Regions from separate parts of the Homo sapiens genome. Here all the other regions are linked to region 3. The links come from fine-mapping of genetic effects on gene expression. A gene starts in region 3. Each other region holds a variant in brackets. All regions are shown on one strand. Distances are from middle to middle. Region 1 overlaps ARPC4-TTLL3 (ARPC4-TTLL3 readthrough). Region 2 overlaps MTMR14 (myotubularin related protein 14). Region 3 holds the start of OGG1 (8-oxoguanine DNA glycosylase). Region 4 overlaps TADA3 (transcriptional adaptor 3).

Region 1 (5,377 bases), 77 kb before region 3:
CTTTACTTATCAACTCATTTAATTCTCACAACTCATAGTACCTAACTTTGTGAGTTAGGTACTATTTTTATTCTTACGGACAAGGAGACCTAGGGGTTAGGAACTTGTCCAAAGTCACATAGCTTGTTGTCACTGAACAGGAATTTGAACCCAAGGAGATTCCAGAATCTCTGCTCTTATGGCTATGCTATATGCCTCTCTAGAAATATTATCCTCATACATGAATTCATTTTATTCTCCCATTCCCATGAGAAAGATGGTAATAATATCCCCATTTCAAAGATCAGGAAACTGAGGCTCAAGGAAGTGAGGTCACCTTAGCAGGACCAGGACTTGAATCTGGGTCTTAAACTGGGTCTGACTGCAGAGTCCTATGCTCCACTGCAGGGCTGCCTGGAAGAGGGTGCAGACTCTCTGGGGTCCTGCCTGGGCCCAACCTCCTCACCTGCTTATAGATGAGCTCAAAGGCTCCTGTGTCACAGTTGCGGTCCAGCATCCGGTCAATGACCACGCGCAGGGTGTCAGCTTGCACGCCAGCACAGAGCCGGGCAGTGACTGCTGTGGAGGGTGCCATCGTGGGGCTGGCGTTGATCTCAATCAGCCAGGGCTGGAAGTCCTCCCCGAACACGAAGTCAGCGCCATAGAGCTCAAAGCTGGCCTTCCGACACTGCACGGTGTCCTGGGAGGTCTGAAGTGCGTGGATCACAGCATCCTTCATGCCAGGCACGATGATGGTGGACCAAGCATTTGGGGCACCCATCTCCTGCAGGTGGGCCTGGAACCTCTGGCTAGACCACATGTTGTCTGGCGGAAGCAGTGGATGCCGATGGCATGAGTTCTCCAGGTGCTTCTGGATGGAGTTGTTGCACAGGTGCACTGAGCTGGGGCAGAGAACAGAAAACTGAGGTCCAGGCCCTTGTGTCTCTCCCATCCAAACTCAGGGAGGACAGGCAAGTCCTGGAAGCAGCCCTGGGCCACCCTGCACTATTCAACTTGAGATGGGGCCCTACTGGGAAGGACAAAAAGGACAGAGGCCTGGGCCCCACCACATTCTTCTAGGGCCAGAACCACTCTTATCTCTCAGGGCTGCTCTGAGGGCGCTAGTTACGGGGGCCGCAGTAGTAAGTGCTTTGTGCATAGTCTCAGTTAACCATCCCAGTGTCTGGAAGATAAGAGGGTGGGTAAGGGTATGGCCCCGTCATCGCCAGGACGTGTTCAAGCGCCATCTCCACACTAGTTGTGAGACCTTAGGGAAGTCATCTAACCTGTGTGCTCTTCACATCTGCAAAATGGGGGTAGTAACAGTACCCACTTCACTGTTTTTTATATTTTTCTTCAGACCTGGTGAACAAGAAGTATGCACTGGGTTCTTATTAAGAATGAGATCATGTATACAAAGTGCTCAGCACTATCACATATGAAGCACTCAATAATTGATAGCTATGAATTTCATACTACTGCCTCCATTCTTCAGATGTGGAAACCAAGGCTTAAATAGGTTTTCACATGACCAGATTCAAACAACTTGGAAGCTGCAGAGACAGAATTGGAATTCAGGCTTTAACAAGGCTTTCTCTCACCCTAGAAGTTAACACGACATCTTAGTTTTCAAAACTCCTGACCTCCTTTCCCCTGCTCTACATTTGCTTCCCTTTTTCCCCCAACGACAAATATAATCTTTTTTTTTTTTTTTTTTTTTGAGACAGATCCTTGATCTGTCACCCAGGCTGGAGTGCAATGGCACGATCTCAGTTCACTGCAACCTCCACCTCCCAGGTTCAAGCAATTCTCCTGTCACGGCCTCCCGAGTAGCTGGGACTACTGGCGCCCGCCAACACGCCCGGCTAATTTTTATATTTTTAGTAGAGACGGGGTTTCGCTATATTGGTCAGGCTGGTCTCGAACTCCTGACCTCAGGTGATCCACCCACCTCGGCCTCCCAAAGTGCTTGGATTACAGGCATGAGCCACTGCGCCTGGCCCAAATAATCTTTTAACCTGTTAGATAATTTCACTTGTGTTCTTGCTTGCCTGTTTCTCCCTGCTAGAATGTAAGCCCTTGAGAGCTGGGATCTTGTTTTGTTCACTGCTATACCCCAAGTGCCCAGAACAGTGCATGGCACAAGGTACACACTCGGTCAAATCTGTTGGAGGGGCCAGGCATAGTGTAATCCCAGCACTTTGGGAAGCCAAGGTGGGATGATCGCTTGAGCCCAGGAGTTTGAGACCAACCTGGGCAACATAGTGAGACCCCATGTCTACATTAAAAAACTTAAAAATCAGCTGTGGTACATGCCTGTGGTCTCAGACACTTGGGAGGCTGAGGAGGAAGGATTGCTTGAGCACAGGAAGTCAAGGCTACAGTGAGCCGTGACCATGCCACTGCACTCCAGCCTAGGTAACAGAGTGAGACCGCCCCCTGTCTGTTAAAAAAAAATCTGTTG[G/A]ATGCAAGGACAGCTGGCAGGATGAGGGCCTGCCTGCCTGCAGTCTGTGTGTGGAGCCTAGCGCTGCTGCGCGAGTCCCCTGCACTGTAATCGCCTGTTTGCTTGCCAGCTCCCCAACTAGGCAGGGAGCTCGTGGGAGGCGAGCAGAGGGGCTCACTTGTCCAGGTTCTTCAGGGAGAAGGGCTGCGTGGAAAAGCGGATATAGCTGTCGCGGTAGAACCACACGGTAAGTGGGTTCCAGTCAGTTACCAGGAACCACTGTCTGAGGTCAAACTTGGTGCCAAAGATGAGGAGGGGCCGCTCAATATACTTCTGCACCACCCACTTGCCGTCCTTCATCACCACGGGGTTGCCGTTCACCAGCTTCAGCATCTCCTCCAGGTGGTCCATGCACATGATGCCTACGGGGGAAGAGGGCAGTCAGGGATTGGAAGGTCAGGCGTGGGCCAGGAGAAGGGCCAGCTTGTCATGAGCTCTTGTCCCCTCGGAGCTGATAGGGCTGAGTGGGTAAGGCTGTCTCCCTCAATCAGAACCCAGTTCCCTTTGGGAAAGCCAGGAATTTGCTAAGGATTTTAAATTTTTCCTAATTAACCAGTTTTGTTTGATTAAACAGGAATACATACATGGATACAAATTTAAAGTGCTGGACTTTTTTTTTTTTTTTTTTTTTTTGAGACAGCCCTGTCACCTAGGCTGGAGTGCAGTGGCACGAGCTCAGCTCACTGCAACCTCCGCCTCCCGGGTTCAAGTGATTCTCCTGCCTCAGCCTCCCGAGTAGCTGGGATTATGGGTGCCTGCCACCACACGTGGCCAATTTTTGTATTTTTAGTAGAGACAGGGTTTCACCATGTTGGCCAGGCTGGTCTCCAACTCCTGACCTCAAGTGATCCACCCGCCTCGGCCTCCCAGACTGCTGGGATTACAAGCATGAGCCACTGTACCTGGCCAGTGTTGGGGGCTTTTTTAAAGTATGTGCACCTATTACGTTCCTACCAATAATAAATAGACTATAAAACAAAACAAAAATTAGGCAGTACGAAAGGGCATACAATAAAAAATGTATCTCCTTGTCTAGAGGCAGCCAACTGCTGCTTCCAGGACCTTATGGATATCCTTCTGGATCATGTGAAAGCCTACACGTGCCTCCGTTTCCCAGGATTGCATAAATTGAAGCACGTTGAGGATTTGGAATAGTGCTTTAGCTGCATGACTGCATTTAATCCTCACCTCACAGGAGGTATTATCATCCTCCTCATGTCACAGATGAGGGAACTGAGGTTCAGGGAGGCGCTAAAACCTGCTCAAGGTCACGAAGCACATTAGTAGCAGAGCTAGGACTCAAACCCAGGCAATTTGGCTTCAATAGACCTGCACTATTAACTTCCTTGGCCTCTACTGGTAGATGCAGGTGGTGAGGTGCCAGTGCAGGAAGCAGGAGCTGACCCCCACCTCGTCCGCGGGACTTGGCTCCTGGCTTCACGATCCAGATGTTGCGATCCCCTTCCATGTCTATCTGGGGTACCACGGCCTGCAGCTGCTGCAGGATGTCCTCACAGCGCTGGACCTGAGTGTCGAGGTGCCTGAGTTCTGCCCCTTCGCTGTGGGGAAATGATAGAACTTGGGCAGGGCTGGACCTGGGACATGCAGGTGGAGAGGGCAGGGGGAGATATATTCCACCATCCCCCGCCGTCATCCAGGCAGCCTTGGTCACGCCCTCCCTGCAGATATCCATAGGTCCCTCCCAAGCCTCCGGCCCCACCTTCAAGCCACCCCGGAAATCCTAACCTGCCCAGACTACACAAATGGGAAAGGCTGATAAAATTCCATTAACTGCAAACCACCCCCTACTCCAACACTCCACCTGTGCCACCCCCTTCCTATTACATTAAAACTGTCTTTGACAGAATTTAATCATTCCAGTTCCTAATGATAAAGCACCACTATGTGCCAGGCATTGTGACAAGGGCTTTCCATATATTTTCACGAATGCCCTCAAGGCCCTGCCAGGGAAGTATTACTAGTACCCACCCCCTACCCCCCGACTTTTTTTTTTTTTTTTTGAGACAGGGTCTTGGTCTGTCACCCAGGCTGAAGTGCAGTGGTGAAATCACGGCTCAGTGCAGCCAGGAACTCCTAGGTCCAAGTTTCAGCCTCCCAAGTAGTTGGAATTACAGGCATACGCCACCACACCCAAGCTAATTTTTATTTTTTGCAGAGATGGGTCTTATTATGTTACCCAGGCTAGTCTTGAACTCCTGGCCTCAGGCCATCCTCCTGTTCAGCCTCCCAAAATGCTGGGATTGCAGGCATGAGCTACCACACCCAGCTCTGGTCCCATTTTAGAGAAATGTAAACTGGGCCAGGCACGGTGGCTCCTGCCTGTAATCCCAGCACTTTGGGAGGCGGAGGCAGGCGGATCACCTGAGGTCAGGAGTTCGAGAACAGCCTGGCCAACATGGCAAAACCTTGTTTCTACTAAAAATACAAAAATTAGCCAGGCATGGTGGCAGGTGCCTGTAATCCCAGCTACTTGGGAGACTGAGGCAGGACAATCACTTGAACCAGGGAGGCGGAGGTTGCAGTGAGCCGAGATCGTACCACTGCACTCCAGCCTGGGCGACAGAGCAAGATTCCGTCTCAAAAAAAAAAAAAAAAAAAAAGAAAAGAAAAGAAAAGAAAAAGTAAACTGGGACGGGCATAGTGGCTCACGCTTGTAATCCCAGCACTTTGGGAGGGCAAGGTGGGCGGATCACAAGGTTAAGAGATTGAGACCATCCTGGCCAATATGGTGAAACCCCATCTCTCCTAAAAATACAAAAATTAGCCGGGTGTGGTGGTGGGCACCTGTAATCCCAGCTACTCAGGAGGTTGAGGCAGGAGAATCACTTCAAGCCAGGAGGCGGAGGTTGTAGTGAGCCGAGATCGCGCCATTGC
Region 2 (5,377 bases), 89 kb after region 3:
TTCCAAAGTGGCAACAGCTTTAAGAAGATCAATTTCTAGGACCTAACTTCCATACATACTTTTCCCTAAAACTGATCTGAAGAAGAAAGCTTTTGGCAGAGTCTCCCTTCCTTCCTCCTCTTTCCCAATTTACAAAAAAGGCACACCAGGGACTGAGACAACAGTCAGACTCTCCCCATTGCCCTGCCCTTGACCACTGAGACACTCAGATACCAGCTAAAGGAATGAATAGACTGAATTCCGCTCCCTTCCCCTCTGAGGCTCTCTGTATGTCAGTCCACTCTTCTTGGACCAATTTTCGCACCGTTGCTACTTGCATTCGGAATTTCCCCGCTCAAACGTCACAATGGCTCTCCTAGCAAACACAGAGCCACCTCCCTGCTCAGCGTTCAGCCGTCTTCATTCAATCCCCTCCATCCTCTGCCCTGATGTGTACCCTCTACTTAGGGAAGTTACTTAGTCACTCTCAGCCTCTGTTTCATCTGCAATGAAATGGGCACATCCCGTACACCAAAAGATAGATAAAAATGAAACCAAACTGGGGAGCCAAATTAAATTAACAAAAGTCCTTAGAATATAAGCTCCATGACAATAAAGATTTTTGTCTGCTTTACATGGTGATGTATTTTAAGGCCTGAAGCAGTGTCTGGCACATAATATACAATAAATACTTGGTGAATTATATAATTGAAAGAATGGAAAAACAATATAGGAACTCATTTGATTTAATCTAATCCACAAACCTTTGAAATAGGTGATTATTATTCTTAATTTATAGGAGAGGAAAAGGAGGCTCTGCATAGGCAGGAAATAAGAGTCAGGATCTGAACCTAGGCAGTCTGGCTCTGGAACACGGGGTGGGGTATGCTGGTGTGACCATCCCTTCTCTACCTAGAACCATCCTTCAGTCAGAATTGGTCTGTTTCTCTGGACTGCTTCCCACAACACCCAGTAACCACCCAATGCTTGGCTACTAATGTTGAGGGAAAAAAAGACCCTATACTTTGCAGTAAGTCAGCTACCCCAGAAGAGAGTCGTGGAGCATGAAGCTATGGTATGGGCCTTACCTTGCCCTTGAACAGGATTACTGGGCAGACAAACCGTCCTCTGCACCGGGCCATCTTGCTGCGGTGGATGAGGTCTTGCAACTTGCTCACCTGTACGGTACTCTCAAACCTAACACACAGGCAAGAGAAGCAGGTCAAGCTGACTTTGAAGTGGGCACTTTGTGTATATGTGTTTATTCACACAGACCCCCATACTAGATCTGTGTACATAATGCTTGCTTGAAATTAAATGTCATTCCTAAATTTTATATCATCTATCATCTGTCTGTCTATCTATCTATTTTTTTGAGACGGAGTTTCACTGTTGTTGCCCAGGCTAGAGTGCAGTGGCGCAATCTTGGCTCACCACAGCCTCTGCCTCCCGGGTTCAAGCAATTCTCCTGTCTCAGCCTCCCGAGTATGCTGTGACTACAGGTGTGAGCCACCACACCTGGGTAATTTTTTTATTTTTGGTAGAGACGGGGTTTCACCACGTTGGCCAGGCTGGCCTCAAACTCCTGACCTCAGGCGATCCGCCCACCTCGGCCTCCCAAAGTGCCGGGATCACAGGCATGAGATATATTAAGTTTTTCAGGAAAAAAAAAAAGTGCTAATTATAGGTATTAAAACTTAAATCACTCTGATTTCTGAACCTTTAAGATAAAAAAAAAGTGAGCTAAACTGAAGACATATACAAAATTCAGAAATATACACAGAAAACTGGATATTATGTCTAGGGTGTCCAATTTTTAACTCCCAGGATAAGACCTGGTGCCCTAGGGACCCTCTCTGGAAATCACAGGACCATTTTTGTGACTATCTATTTTTTGCATAACTCTGAATATGTATTTTTGTGATCTTTTAGAGCAAGCAGTCCCCAGGCCCTGAGCCCCAGATCAGTACGAGTCCATGCCCCATTAGGAACCAGGAGGTGAGCAGCAGGCAAGTGAGCATTACCGTCTGACTTCCACCTCCTGTCAGATCATCAGTGGCGGCATTATATTCTCATAGGAGCTCGAACCCTATTGTGAACTCCGCATGTGAGGGACTGGGGTTGCAGAGAATCTAATGCCTCATGATCTGAGGTGGAACAGTTTCATCTGAAACCATTTTCTCCACCCTGCCGTGGAAAAATTGTTTTCCATGAAACCAGTCCCTGGTGCCAAAAAGGTTGGGGAGTGCTGTTTTAGAGGGCAGAATGAGATGACGTTTCTTGGTCCACATGGCTCTAGGCCTCTGCTTTCACAGTCCATATGGCCAACAGCGCACAGAGCAAAGGAGGCATAAGAGAAGCCATGTGTGACACAGGGACGTGTAGTAGTTAATGCACTGGGCTTGGTAAGTGAGCTTCTAGAACTTGAGAGTGAGGTTTAGAAGTTAGCTCCAGCAAGTCATACCCATATCAAATCACGCTTCCCTAAAATAAGGGTCCGCTCTCATAAACTCACCTACCAACCTTTAGCAAAGCTCACCCCAGCCAGTCAGAGCTTCTGGTAGCAACAGAAACAGGAGGCAGGAAAGTTAGAGCAGGAAGCTTTCCCAGCTACACAGAGTAACCAAGTAGAAGGAAGGAAAAATACTCATGTTCCTTCCTTAAAAGTGTTGAGCTTTCAGACCAACTCCTAGAGGGAATTTAATTGCTTCCACATCCTAATCCTTCTAGGAATCTGCGTACAGCTCCTCTTGTACACATGCACCCAAATATTATCCCAGAAGGAAGAAATCAGTGACTCCCACATACTTGTGGTACCTCTTTAAATGTATCTGGATGCTGTTAGGGTTAATAAAAACACAGTCTTTAAAATACTGCGAATTCTTAGTTAAAATATATCTAGGGGCCAGGCGTGGTGGCTCACACCT[G/A]TAATCCTAGCACTTTGGGAGGCCAAGGTGGGCAGATCACTTGAGGTTGGGAGTTCAAAACCAGCCTGGCCAACATGGTGAAACCCCATCTCTACTAAAAATACAAAAAAATTAGCCTGGCGTGGTGGCGCGTGCCTGTAATCCCAGCTACTCAGGAGGCTGAGGCAGGAGAACTGCTTGAACCCGGGAGGCAGAGTTTGCAGTGAGCCAACATCACGCCATTGCACTCCAGCCTGGGCGAAGGGCGAGACTCCGTCTGGGGGAAAAAAAAAAAAGCAAAGTGCCCGTAGGGTGGCAGCAACCCACCAGGCAGCCCTAGGCACACAAGCTCACAGAGAACCAGAGTGTGCTGCCTTCCCCTCACCCAGTTTCTCTATGAAATCAAAAGGCACCTTGGTACCAATTAATTGCCTAACTAGACTCCACAAGAATATAAAACCGAGCACCTTTAGTACTGCCACAGTGGCCTTCCTCCCACTTACTTGGCCCGTGGCCGATGTCACATATCTGGTCAGCACCATCTGCTGCAACCGACTCTCACTTAGCTCATACCAGCCCTCTGAACCCTAAATGCCTACATCTGATTTTCCCAGGTTGAGTTGTAGCCTCAAAACCAAGGTGGATTTCTCAGGCTAAACTTCTGTTAAAAACAAACAAACAAAACACCCCTGGTGGAGGACACATCAGCATTTTCCTCTAGGGAGGATCTTTTAATGTAATGACCCACCTTTTCTTGTTAGGTCGGCCAGTGGTTCCTTTACCGGTTCCCCTACATCAAGCTCCAATTCAGTTTCTGGCCAGGCACAGTGGCTCATGCCTGTAATCCCACACTTGGGGAGGCTCAGGCGGCAGATCACCTGAGGTCAGGAGGTAAAGACCAGCCTGGCCAACATGGTGAAACCCCGTCTATACTAAAACTACAAAAATTAGACAGGCGTGGCAGCACGCGCCTCTAATCCCAGCTACTCGGGAGGCTGAGGCAGGAGAATTGCTTGAACCCAGGAGGCGGAGGTTGCGGTGAGCAGAGATCACGCCACTGCACTCCAGCCTGGGCAACAGAATGAGACTCCGTCTTAAAAAAAAAAAAAAAAAGAACCAATTCAGTTTCTGTTCTCTCACTTTTTCCTGTTTTTATTATCTCTTGTCCTTAGGATTCTTTTATTGCAGTGCTAAGCACTGAGCTGTGTCTGGCACATAATACTCACATTCGAAGGGATGAATGTAGGCTTCTGTATTTACATTTGTAATGTATGCACTGAAATTTCTGGCAAGATGTTACCAGGTAGTGAGATTTTGTTGTTTTTTTCCCAACAAGGTCTTCCTCTGTTGCCCAGGCTGCAGTGCAGTGGCGCCATGGTTCACTGCAGCTGACCTCCTGGGCTCAGGTGATCCTCCCACCTCAGACTCCCAGGTAGCTGGGACTACAGGCACATGCCACGATGCTTGGCTAATGCTTTGTATTTTTTGTAGTGACAAGGTGTCACCATGTTGCCCAGACTGTTTAATTCAGTCTGTTTTTTATTCAGTCTATTCAGTTTAATTCAGTCTCAAACTCCTGGGTTCAAGCGAAACGCCCATCTCGGCCTCCCAAGTAACTAGGATTATAGGCGTGAGCCACCATGCCCAGCCAAACTATTTTCAAATACAGAAGAAAATGCTGTTATCACATATTTCCAATAGGAAGCTTTCCCAGACAGGCACCACACTTACCAAACTGGGTGGCTTGTTCCTATAATGTACCCCACAACTTCCTGAGATAAATGTTACTGCTGCTACTATTTAATAGATAAGAGGCACAAAGTAGAGCTTACACCCACATTATCTCACTCAGTCCTCACTTACCCAATTTTACAGATGAGGTAGTTTAATGAGATGAAATCTCTAGCCCAAAGTCACAGAACAGGTAAACAGGGTAGCTGAGATTCTAAACCCTGTGGGTAGCCACTGGGCCCATGGTTTTAACCACTATCCGGCAGGGCCTCACCTGTACTTCCCCTAATTCCAGCTTTTATTAACAATTATTGCTTCTTTATTGGACTCTGTTTCCCACTAGACCTACTGGTAAGGACTTCATCTATCTGGCTTCCAACTTGATCCCTGAGGTCTACTACACAGCAGCAGCTGAACGAACACTGTTGACAAACATGTCTTAGCTATTCAGAGATCCCTGTCCAGGCTTCTATTCCCAGATGATGAACCAAATTGGAGAGGTTCCTTAACAGGACCAAAACATTGCTTAAATCCAATTCTACCCTGTTTAATTCAGTCTATTTTTTATTCAGTCTATTCAGTTTAATTCAGCATCATAGTAACAGCCAAGCCAGACAGTAAAAAAGCAAAAAATGCTATTTCTTCCCACCCAAACATACCCGAAGTCCCCCCTTTCAACAAGCAGGCATCACCCACTCAACATCACTTCAGTAACACTTTAAGGCCTTGCAAGGAGTGAAAAGTAAAAACAAACTCCAACA
Region 3 (5,377 bases):
GCCAGGAATGGGTTTCTAAGCACCAAAAACATTCTCCTGTTTTGAGGCAGTCTGTCTCTTTGCTATGCAGTTCCCAAGCACTTGTCCTAGCTTGGTTCTCACATCTGCCAATCGATACACTTGCCTCTGTAAAACATTTGCCTTACAGGGCTACTGTGAAGAACACACGTGTTCTTAGATACAAAACTATCCCATTCACTACAATGATACCAGCTTGAATTTTTTTTTTTTTTTTTTTTTTTGAGACAGAGTCTCGCTCTGTTGCCCAGGCTGGAGACGGGGTTTCACTGTGTTAGCCAGGTGTGAGCCACTGCGCCTGGCTGATACCAGCTTGAATTTTACATATACTTCCTGTGTGCCAAACACTGTGCTAGGTGCAGTATGTATATTCCTTTCTTCAACCCTCATGACAACTCCAATAATAGCATAGGTAGGTGCTATTATTATTCTACTTCACAGATGAAGAAACTTTAGTACAGAGATGCTAAATAATGTGCCCAAGTGAGAGTTGGGGTTCAGAACCAGGCATGGGTCTGTCCCCAGAATGCATGCTCTTAACCCCAAACTACTGTACATTGTATACAGATATTTTTCTGATTAGGCATTGAACCCATTGGGCAAAAAGCACAGACCAGTGAGGTGCTGACATTTTAGGGATGCATAGGGAGGATGAGTAACTGGAGTTGATCAGACCAGGCAGGGCGGTTCTGGATAGGGGAAGTGTTTGGGAAGGCAGGAAGCCTTGAGAAGGTAACCAGGGGAGAAATGAACAGATCTTGAAAGCTGATGGAAGGCCTGGGGGCAGGGGACCCACCTACTCACCAGCCAGGGCCTGCAGGCTGGGGAAGCCATGGTAGGTGACATCATCAAGCTGGATGAGCCGAGGTCCAAAAGCCTGGCACAGCCGCTCCACCATGCCAGTGATGCGGGCGATGTTGTTGTTGGAGGAACAGATAAAAGAGAAAAGGCATTCGATGGGGTCTTGTCGCAGCAGTCGCACACCTGGAGACCAGAAATGCAGGGGGTAGGAGAGGTACCTGCTGTTGGGTGTGGCCTCTTCCCACCCACAGGTCAGATCCTAGGTACCAAAACTCCAGGAGGATCCCAGGAGAATGAGAGTCAGCACCGTTAGAGAAAGCAACACCAGACCTCTCATTCCTCATAGCATCTTGTGAGGGCTGAGTTACCATCCCATTCCACAGATAAAGAGGCCACAATGTAAGCTCCATGAGGACTGGCATTTGGGTCTGTTTTGTTCACTGGTGTATCCCCGGTCACACAGCAGATGCTTTGTATATATTTACAGAATGAATGAAATCACTTGCCCTAGGTCACACAACCAGGAATGGGCTCAAAATCCTTGTCACTTCACTATGGTGATTAGCAGGATAATAATAATGGTAATAATACTTACTATGTGCCTGGCATTATTCTAAGCACTTTACATGTATTAGTTCCTTAAATCCTCATAAAAGCCTATGAAGTAGATATAATCCCCATTTTACAGGTGGCAAAACTGAGTCATAGAGAAGTGACTTATGTCCAAGAACCCTAACCCCAGCCCAGGTCCTGTACTCACCTTGGAATTTCTGAGCCACCTCTTGGAAGTGGGAGTCCACGGAACCCCAGTGGTGATACAGTTGAGCCAGGGTAACATCTAGCTGGAAGTACTTGCGCACGGCCTCCAGCTCGTCTGGTGTGGGCCTGCTAGCCTGGCTCTTGTCTCCTCGGTACACAGTGCAGTGGAGCTGCTCCTCAGTCTGAGTCAGTGTCCATACTTGATCCGCTAGTACACCACTCCAGTGTGCAGGACTTTGCTCCCTCCACCTGAGCCCAAGGCACATGACAACCCTGGCACTCAATTTCCTTTCTTGCACCCTTTGGGGTCCCTCCTATCCTACAATAGCTCCATGTACGAAACTAATACAAGTAACAGTGCTATCTTCCAGTCTGAGCAACATGGCGAAACCTCACCTCTACAAAAAATACAAAAATTTAACCGGGCATGGCGCACACCTGTAGTCCCAGCTACTCGGGAGGCTGCGCCCGGGGGGTCGAGGCTGGAATGGGCCTCTCTGCATTCCTACCTGGGCAACAGAGCGAGACCCTGTCTCAAAAAAAGAAAAACAAGTGCTATTATCTTCTGCATCGGTTATACCGCTGGATCCTTACAATTATCACTGTACAGACATATTAAAGGTAACAGGTTGGCTACCCGTGCTTGTTTCCTCTTTTGTACCCCGGGTTTCTTCCATCATCCCCCAAATTCCTTTGTACCCCATGCCAGGCAGTGTTGAGGCGGCAGGAGCCAGTCCGAGGGGACAGGCTTCTCAGGCTCAGTCACTCACCGGAAAGATTGTCCAGAAGGCAGAACCAGGTCCAGGCGCAGCTCAGAGCGAGGGCACGGGATGGAGGCCCACAGGGCAGGAGTGGAGGCTAGAGTACGATGCCCCATGCGCCTGGGCAGAAGCGCGCGGGCAGGCATTTCCACAGCAGGCACCGCCCCGTAGTAGCCCCGCCTACCCAGAACCAGGCCTCGTCGACGCCCAAAGACCCCGCCCAGACAAGGACCACGACCCTTAAGGCCTCGCCCACACGGTGCTGTTTAACAACCTTCCCTGTTTCACTTAATTCCTCCACCTCCTGCATGCCTCGCCCTTTGCGGGTCATCAAAGCCCCGCTTCGTGCCCCAATTCTCCGGCTTTCCTGAGGTGTAGGTCCCGCCCCCTCCTTGCGACTTATCTTCTCCCGCCCCCAGAGCCTGTGGGCGCGCACAGCTGTGTTCTTCTGGGTTCTCCAGGGGCAGACCACAGCACCACCGGAAGTAGGGCTCAACCACCGCTCATTTCACCTAGAGGTAGCCAATCCGAGGAGGAGGTAGGAGGCGCCAATGAGAAATCAGGGTGGGCGGGCCGTTCTGAGGCGCTCGCGCGGTTGGCCGGCACTGGGCTCTCTGCCAGCTGCTCGCCTTTCCCCCTCCGGGATTGTCTGCACTCGGGGCGCTAACGAGTTCCATCTGGGCGCCCCGCGGTTCCTCAGGGCTGTCCGTCTTCAGAGCCACGTCCTTCCCCAGCCCGTTCTCCGAGAGCCGTTCTCCCCCGAGCCTTTGCAGTCTTAGGCGTTCGCCCTCCTTGGGCCGCCTCCCACGAACCCTGTCTTCACCAAGAACCGGAGCGAACACAGCTCCGGCCCCAGAGCCCTCGGGAAGTGTCTCCAGAGTATTATTCTCTTCTGCGCCCGCCCGCTAAGCTTGTCCCATTCAAGGCCTTTAGGCGTCCTCTGAGACCTCAGGACATCAGAGGCCTCTCCTCGGATTGTCGTCCCGCCGGCCGCCACAGCTGCTGCCTGCCGTCTTGGGCATTTCTTCCATACTCCATCTGCTCATGCTTTCCTCGGAATGGGACGTTTGCCGGGGGTTTGTCTGGGGCTGGGCCCAGAAGCCCATCAGGTTGAGTCCAAGTCCCAGTGTGTGGCCCTGAGGCAGCCTGCCTTCTAGTCGCCTGGAGTAGGAGGATGGATTATTTAATTTCTTCCCTTCTGGAGGATGGCATGAAAAAGCAGGGAGCTAGGAGACATGACCTTTATCTGGGCCATTCTCACCTTTTAGCATAGGGATTTGGGGTTGCTGTATCTTAACTATCAGGCTGCAAGTTTTTTTTCTTTGAGACGGAGTCTCACTCTGTCGCCTAGGCTGGAGTGTGATGGCGCGATCTCGGCTCACTGCAAGCTCCGCCTCCCGGGTTCAAGCGATTCTCCTGCCTCAGCCTCCCGAGTAGCTGGGACTACAGGTGCGCGCCACCACGCCCAGCTAATTTTTGTATTTTTAGTAGAGATGGGGTTTCACCATGTTGGCTAGCATGGTCTCGATCTCTTGACCTCGTGATCCAGCCGCCTCGGCCTCTTAAAGTGTTGGGATTACAGGCGTGAGCCACCGCACCCCGCCCAGACTGCAAATTCTTGAAGAGCAACATCTGCAGCGGATTGACCCTTGTGTCCCAGCCAGAGACCTAGCGGAGTGTACCGTCAGCATGGAATCAACATCAGACCAGTGCCATCATTGTCTCAGTGCCAGTCCTCAGTGGCTGCAAGGCCTGGGCCGCCCCTTCTTCCTGTGACTGTTCCTATCTGTAGGCATGCCATCCCACAGGCGCCTAGCACTTGGAAGGCATTCCTTCAATAAATGTCGGTGGAGTCTGGAAAGAAGGTGCTGAGGTTGGGGGTGAGCAAAGAGCAACCGTCTCCATCCCAGCTCTGTCTCCGGTTAAGCAGTGGGGAAGGTCTCAGCTGTATTGATGCTGAAACACTTGGGCCATGCCACTGGCAAAGGACTTGAGGCCTCTAAGGGCCAAGTAGGAATCGATAGTTGACTCTTCCCCTGGCAGTTCAGCATACTGGTTGAAGAGCCAGGTTTGCAAACAGACCTGGGTTCCAATTCTAGCTCTGCACCTTCCTAGTTGTAGGAACTTAGGCAAGATAATTTTTTGAAACTTCAGCATCTTTGTGGAGATAACCAGTCTATTATTAAACTACCCTATAGTTATTGCAAGGATTACGCAAAGCTGAATGTCTAAAGGTGCTCAACACAGGGCCTGCCACTCACTCCATGCATGGGCAACAGGGGCTCTCTTTGCTGTGTCTTATGAAATGTAGCATGCACAGCAGTCAGCAACCACTTGGGCCCAATTATGTATCATCCCTGGGGCACAGAACCTCCCTTTGTATCCCCTTTGCCCTGGCAGGGGGCAAGAACAAAGAATTCTAAATTGACAGTTTATTTTCTAAGAATCAATATATTTTCTTCCTTTGAAATAAATACAAACCAGTTTGAAAGGTGGGGGAATCTATGGGAAAGAGAAGGGAAATGGGGACAGCCCCCAGTCTTTTTTTTTTTTTTTTTTAGTACCAAATGACTCTGGCGCGACCCGGAAACGCAGTTACAAATGAGAATAATTTAAATTCTCCGATAATTACAGTATTTACAACAGCAGGGGAGGGAGTCACCTAGTGCCCCTCTTCCAGGCTGGACAGATGCCCACTCACCTCACGACCGGTAGGGGCCCCAGGCCTCTAGGCAGTTATGGATTCTCCTGGCATGAGCAGGTAGAGGTGGTGGGATGGCCTGTTTTACGCAGTGTCCTAACTTTGGCCCACCACCCCGCCCTACAATGCTGTGAGGTCTCTGGAGCTTTTTCTGACCTGTGGGCCCTCCCTCTCCTTGCGCTGAACTGCCATTGGCCCTTGGAGTGTTCTGTACAGTCCAGCTGCACTTAGGGCAGGAGGGACCTCCCCCACCCAGCTTCCCCTGAGACTGGCCCCAAGACCAGAAATGAGTCAGTGCAGAGGCCGGTGCCACTCCAGGACAGTGAGCAAAGGGGAG
Region 4 (5,377 bases), 30 kb before region 3:
CCCAGTGAAGCGAAATGCTCTGCTGAAGGTCACACAGTCAATAAACAGCAAGCTGAGACTTGAACCTGTGGTTGAATCAAAGCCTCTTTCTATAATAGTTTGTTTTCTCTGAAAGGTGAGAAGAAGAAAACACAGATGGAAGAGGCACTGAGGGAAGCAGAGGGAGAGAGAGGAAGAGAGAGAAAAGCAGGCATGTGCAGTTACAGAAGTAGTGGGCCCTAGCTGGGCCTGGTGGCTCATGCCTGTAATCCCAGCACTTTGGGAGACTGAGGTGGGAGGCTTGTTTGAGCTCAGGAGTTCGAAACTAGCCTGGGCAATGTAGTCAGACCCCCTTCTCTACTAAAAATTTTTAAAAATCAGCTAGGCATGGTGGCACATGCCTATAGTCCTACTCAGGAGGCTGATGTGGGAGGATTGCTTGATCCTGGGAGGTAGAGGCTGCAGTGAGCTTGATCAGGCCACTGTACTCCAGCCTGGGTGACAGAGTGAGACCTGTCTCAAAAAAAAAAAAAAAAAAAAAAAAAGAAGTAATGGGCAATGAAGAAATGGCTTGCAGCTCTCAGGAAACCAGAGCACAGCCCTTACCCTGCTGCAGAGCAGCTGCAAGGCCTTAAGCAGCCCCTGACCTGAGCATCTCCTTCCCCTTCTGGAAAACTGGCAGGCTGGACTCAATCACTAAGTGACCTTCCAGCTCCACCATCGATGAAATGTATAAATCAGACCCTGTTCAGAGAGATTGATCTGGTGTCTCACCCACCTCCTGTCAGCCTCAGGCTGCCTAGACCTTAGGGGGCTCTGGAATGCAGATGCCGACGTAAGCAGGCCTTCTGCTGGCACCGGAACACCTGAAACAACAGTGTTTAAAAACAAGAGTTTGGCCCCAGCCTGCTCCAGATCTCCCCCTCACTAACTGTGGGATCCTGGGATCATCTTTGAGCCTCATTTTCCTCACGGGTAACATATGAATAATAGTACATATTTTGCAGGGTTGTTAGGATTAACTGAAAGACAGAGAGAGAGAGTGGGTGTGCCTGTGTGTGTGTGTTTGTGTGTGTGTATGTATATATATATATATTTTAGAGACAGGGTCTTACTCTGTTGCCGAGGTTGGTCTCAACTCCTGGCTTCAAGTGATCTTCCTGCCTCCATCTCCCAAAGCGCTGGGATTACAGGCATGAGCTACTTTGCCCAGCCTACTGTGTATATTTTTAAGACCTTTTTTTTTTTGAAGACACAGTCACGCTCTGTTGCCCAGACTGGAGTGTAGTGGCATGATCATAGTTCACTGTAACCTTGAACTCCTGGCCTCAAGCAATCCTCAGCTCCCTTGGAGTTGGGACTACAGGTGTGCACTACCACACCCAGCTAATTTTTTAAATTTTTTGTAGAGACAGTCTCACTATGTTGCTCAGACTGGTCTCGAACTCCTGGGCTCAAGTGATCCTTCTGCCTTGGGCTCCCAAAGTGCTGGGACTGCAGATGTGAACCCCCATGTGCAGCCAAGACTTTATTCTTCTAGAGCAGTTTTAAGTTCACAACAAAATTGAGAGAAAGGTACAGAGAATTCCCGTATCTCCCTGTCCCCACATGTGCACAGCCTCCCCCGTGATCAACATGAGTTAATATTTTTCAGGAGCTTAAGATAGTGCCATGTAAGTGTAGGTCAGTAACTGCTTTTTGGTCACGACTGTATGACACAATCCACAGGCATGCCAGCCTGGGCTGGTGGGTAGGCTCGGTCTTGAAGAGGGAGGGGTTGTTCTCTGGAGGTGGGCTGACCCTGGCACCTGGCTGGCTGGTCCCCACAGGCTGGCAAAGGAGGAGGTGAGCCGGCAGGAGCTGAGGCAGCGGGTGCGCATGGCTGACAACGAGGTCATGGACGCCTTTCGCAAGATCATGGCTGCCCGGCAGAAGAAGCGGACTCCCACCAAGAAAGAAAAGGACCAGGCCTGGAAGACTCTGAAGGAGCGTGAGAGCATCCTGAAGCTGCTGGATGGGTAGCCCTCACCCCTGCCTCAGGCTGATTATCTGGCCTAGGGGAGGGGAAGGGAGGCCCACTTCCTTCTTTGGGCACAGGAAACATTGGCCTGTGGCTGTCCCTCAAATGGCGGCAGTCTCTAGAGGGCCGTGGCCCTTCCCCTGAGGTCTTTTGGCCTAGCTCTGTACAACCAGGACACAGGAAGCCCTGCTGGGCTAGCCTGAGGCCTAGTCTCTGCTTGGTCCCCGAGATGGGGTTGGAGGGGACTTCGTTTCTGGGTCTTCCTCTTCCCCTCTTTA[C/T]CATCCCCCACTCCCTAATCCCCTACCCCTGTCTCCCCTTCAAGGACTTCTCCCTTGTGGTTTTGTAAAGTGCAAACTTAAGAATAAAGTGACTGCTGTGGTTTTTCAAAAAAAGCATCCAGTCTTTGAATGTCTGTTACAGTGGGGAGGAAGGAACCAGTGTGGGTGGTAAGGTTTGTGGGGGGTATGCTTGGTGGCTCTCAGCCCATGGCCACTAACCCATGGCATTCAGTCAGGGAGAACTTTCTGAGTACCTCTTTCTGAGGATACTTGTGGCTGCACGTAACAATGCCCCCCCAGCTCAAAGTGGATTCACAGTAAGGAAATGTGTTGGCTGCAGGATGGGCAGTCCTGGGACAGAGTGGCCTTCACGGTTAGCCAATCTAGCAATTCTTCAGGGTCATCAAGGGTCCAGGTTTCTTTTTTTTTTAATTTAAGTTCTAGGGTACATGTGTACAACGTGCAGGTTTGTTACATATGTATACATGTGCCATGTTGGTGTGCTGCACCCATTAACTCGTCATTTACATTAGGTATATCTCCTAATGCTTTCCCTCCCCCCTCCCCCAAGGGTCCAGGTTTCTTAGGGGTCACCACACTGCCCTCCACAGTGTCGACCTCTGCCTAAGGTGAGTCCTTCTCTGGCTGTAGTGTGGCAGTGGAGCAGTTGGGGCCAGATGCTTCCTCATTTACATCCAGCACAGGAGGGAGCCGGAGCCAGCGGGCTTCCATGGCCCATCTACAGAAGCAAGAAGCCTTTTCCCAGATACCATCATGTTTCAGTGGCCCAAACTCAGTCTCACATGCCCATTCCTCAGTCACTGTGGCAAAGGAGACTGTAATGGCTTTATGCCAGTCAGAGTGGAGTTTGCTACTCCATCAAGGTGGTGGAGAGAGAGTAAAACCCAACAAGATCTGAGTAGGAAACAGGGAAGTGAGTGCTAGATAGACCACCGACAACGTCTCTTCCACAGCTGGGGCAGGAAGCTTGGCCTAAGGGACACAGATGAATAAATATGCTCTGGTACCTGCCTCAAGTTGTTCCCAGACTGGTCTGAGAGAATCAGGGAATAATTTGCAATTTACTGTGGGAAGGTTGAGGTCCACGCAGGAGAGAAGGGAGGGTAAGATTCCCTAAGGAAGTGACCTATGAACTGAGCCATAAAGAAGGAGGGCGAACATGGCCAACATTCTCGTATACCCAGCACCTCTCTGTTGGAGAAATGTTCCTTCCCCATCACACATGGTTCTTGTCCAACTGCCAAACTAGGGTGCACACATGACCCCAGCTTGGCCAGTCAAGTGCCAATCCCTCTAGCCACAATGATTAGTCCCAGAAGCAGGCATGTAACCCAAGCTGGGTCACTCGAGGCCCTCCATAAGATTGCTCTGTGGATGCTGAGAGGAGAGTTCCACTTCTTGTTGGACCATAAGCCATAGACTATAAACTCAGTCTACCCCAGTGACCTGCTCTCCTCCCATGGGGAAAAACCTGCTTGAGAATAAAGCCAGCTCAGAAAAGCAGAGCCAGGAGATGGAGAAGTGCTGCATCCAGCTATTCTTGAAGCCACCGGATCCTCCCTTAGACTTCCCACATATATCAGCCCACAAAGGCTTCTTTTGGCTTAAACTAGTTTGCTTTAGAGTTTTGTGATTTGTAACTAAAAAAGGCCTATTACAAGTGAATTTTGGCAAAAAGAAAGATGAAGTAGGATCCTGAGAGAGAGGACAGCATGAGGCCCTGCCTCCCACTAGGTGCTGGGCCAAGCTGCTGCAATTTCTCAGTGACTCATTGTCCCCAGGTTGCTCACAGCCTTCTCAGAGAGAAAAGACACCCACACATGCAATGATGAGAAACCAACTCTAATCATAATGATAATGCAATGAAGGGCTCAGTAAATGTTAGTATGCACCAGGCATTGTTCTGAACTCATTCAACTACCTAATATTATGGGGTAGGTATCAGCTACCCCATAATAACATCCCATTTACAGATGAGGAAACTGAGGCTTAGGAGGTTACATACCTTGCTTTGTCAAGCAATTGAGTGGTTGAGCCAACATTCAAACTCAGGCCATTTGGCTTACAGAGAGAGCCTCTTCATTACAACTCACTGGGGCCCCACTCCCATTACAGTGTATGTGAATGGTACTCCCTATACTTGGGCAGTGCCCAACCTGTGCAGCCATATATGGCAGCTCTGCTTGAAGACCCCCCTCCTCTTAACCACTCACTTCCATGTTCACTGGGCCACACCATAAGTATGGTGGGCGTTGTTGGTAGAGAGTTCCAAGAACAGAGACAGTTTTGTGGAGGAGGTGGGATGAGAGCTGACATCCCAAAATTGGATGGAATTGTGAAAGAAGGAAGACAGATATAAATAGAAAGAAGAACCCTAGAAGACCGACTGGGCCTGGTTCACCAGAGAAGAAACTTAACTTTCAAGGATCAGTCATGAGCACTCTAGCTGTTCTCTGTTGCATACCTACTATCTGCCTGGCACTGTGCCAGGCCCTTTACCCACCCCTCCTATCTGATGCTTACCATGCACCTCCAAGGAGAGTAATATTCCAGCCTGCAGATGACACAGAGACTCAAAGAGATGCTGTGCCTTGCTGAGGCCATGCAGCCTTGATGCAGGAATAGTTGCTGCCCCCAGGTAGCACCATCCCTGGCAGAGTTCTTACAATCATATCAGTGTCTGCTGGAGCCAAAAGATGCCTCCTTTATGAGTGTGGAGGAAGCTGGGTTGTCATGAGGAGGGCGGATTAGTTCCAGTACCTCAAGTCTCCAAATTTAATTCAAAACAATTCTGATTCCTTATCACTAGTTTGGAGGCAAAGCCTTTTGTGTCTTGGCCCTAGAAAGCATCTGTCTTGCACATCATGGTCTCCCCAGAGTTCCAAATGCCTTACAGCTGACTTTCAGCAACACCAGGGTGAGTGAGAACGGGGAGGGTGAGCTCTGACCCACAGTGGGTCCCCAGCCCCTGTCTGCTCCTGAGTACTCTGGGCACCAAGTGCTCTGGGTCCCAGTTGGCTCCTGCTGAAAAGAAAGTGATGGCAGGAGCTTTGTGGAAATGTGGTCGGGGAGTAAATTT

Evidence for each region.
Region 1: its variant is fine-mapped to the expression of OGG1 in whole blood (TOPMed, PIP above 0.99).
Region 2: its variant is fine-mapped to the expression of OGG1 in skeletal muscle (GTEx, PIP above 0.99).
Region 4: its variant is fine-mapped to the expression of OGG1 in whole blood (TOPMed, PIP above 0.99).

What each region holds. Positions count from the first base shown.
Region 1 is chr3:9,824,464-9,829,840 of GRCh38, reverse strand. ARPC4-TTLL3 (ARPC4-TTLL3 readthrough) reads right to left here. Exons shown (of 12, transcript NM_001198793.1): 9 at 3,893-4,041; 10 at 2,601-2,844; 11 at 446-881. TTLL3 (tubulin tyrosine ligase like 3) reads right to left here. Exons shown (of 14, transcript NM_001387446.1): 9 at 3,893-4,041; 10 at 2,601-2,844; 11 at 446-881. Among named protein-coding and RNA genes, the nearest start is that of RPUSD3, 17 kb to the left of the region's middle. RefSeq lists silencers at 2,373-2,442, 2,453-2,522, 5,083-5,303 and enhancers at 2,156-2,656, 3,490-3,990, 3,991-4,491. The variant G/A (reference allele first, on the strand shown) is at 2,444.
Region 2 is chr3:9,658,066-9,663,442 of GRCh38, reverse strand. MTMR14 (myotubularin related protein 14) reads right to left here. Exons shown (of 19, transcript NM_001077525.3): 3 at 1,068-1,176. Among named protein-coding and RNA genes, the nearest start is that of MTMR14, 11 kb to the right of the region's middle. The variant G/A (reference allele first, on the strand shown) is at 2,907.
Region 3 is chr3:9,747,395-9,752,771 of GRCh38, reverse strand. It overlaps OGG1 (8-oxoguanine DNA glycosylase), which reads right to left and starts at 2,820. Exons shown (of 7, transcript NM_002542.6): 1 at 2,349-2,820; 2 at 1,580-1,827; 3 at 823-1,002. The coding sequence starts at 2,485. BRPF1 (bromodomain and PHD finger containing 1) reads right to left here. Exons shown (of 14, transcript NM_001003694.2): 14 at 4,757-5,377. RefSeq lists enhancers at 3,047-3,166, 3,197-3,246.
Region 4 is chr3:9,776,981-9,782,357 of GRCh38, reverse strand. It overlaps TADA3 (transcriptional adaptor 3), which reads left to right. Exons shown (of 9, transcript NM_006354.5): 9 at 1,809-2,391. The coding sequence ends at 2,001. It also overlaps a transcript of OGG1 not described here. Among named protein-coding and RNA genes, the nearest start is that of CAMK1, 9.7 kb to the right of the region's middle. RefSeq lists an enhancer at 3,919-4,213. The variant C/T (reference allele first, on the strand shown) is at 2,278.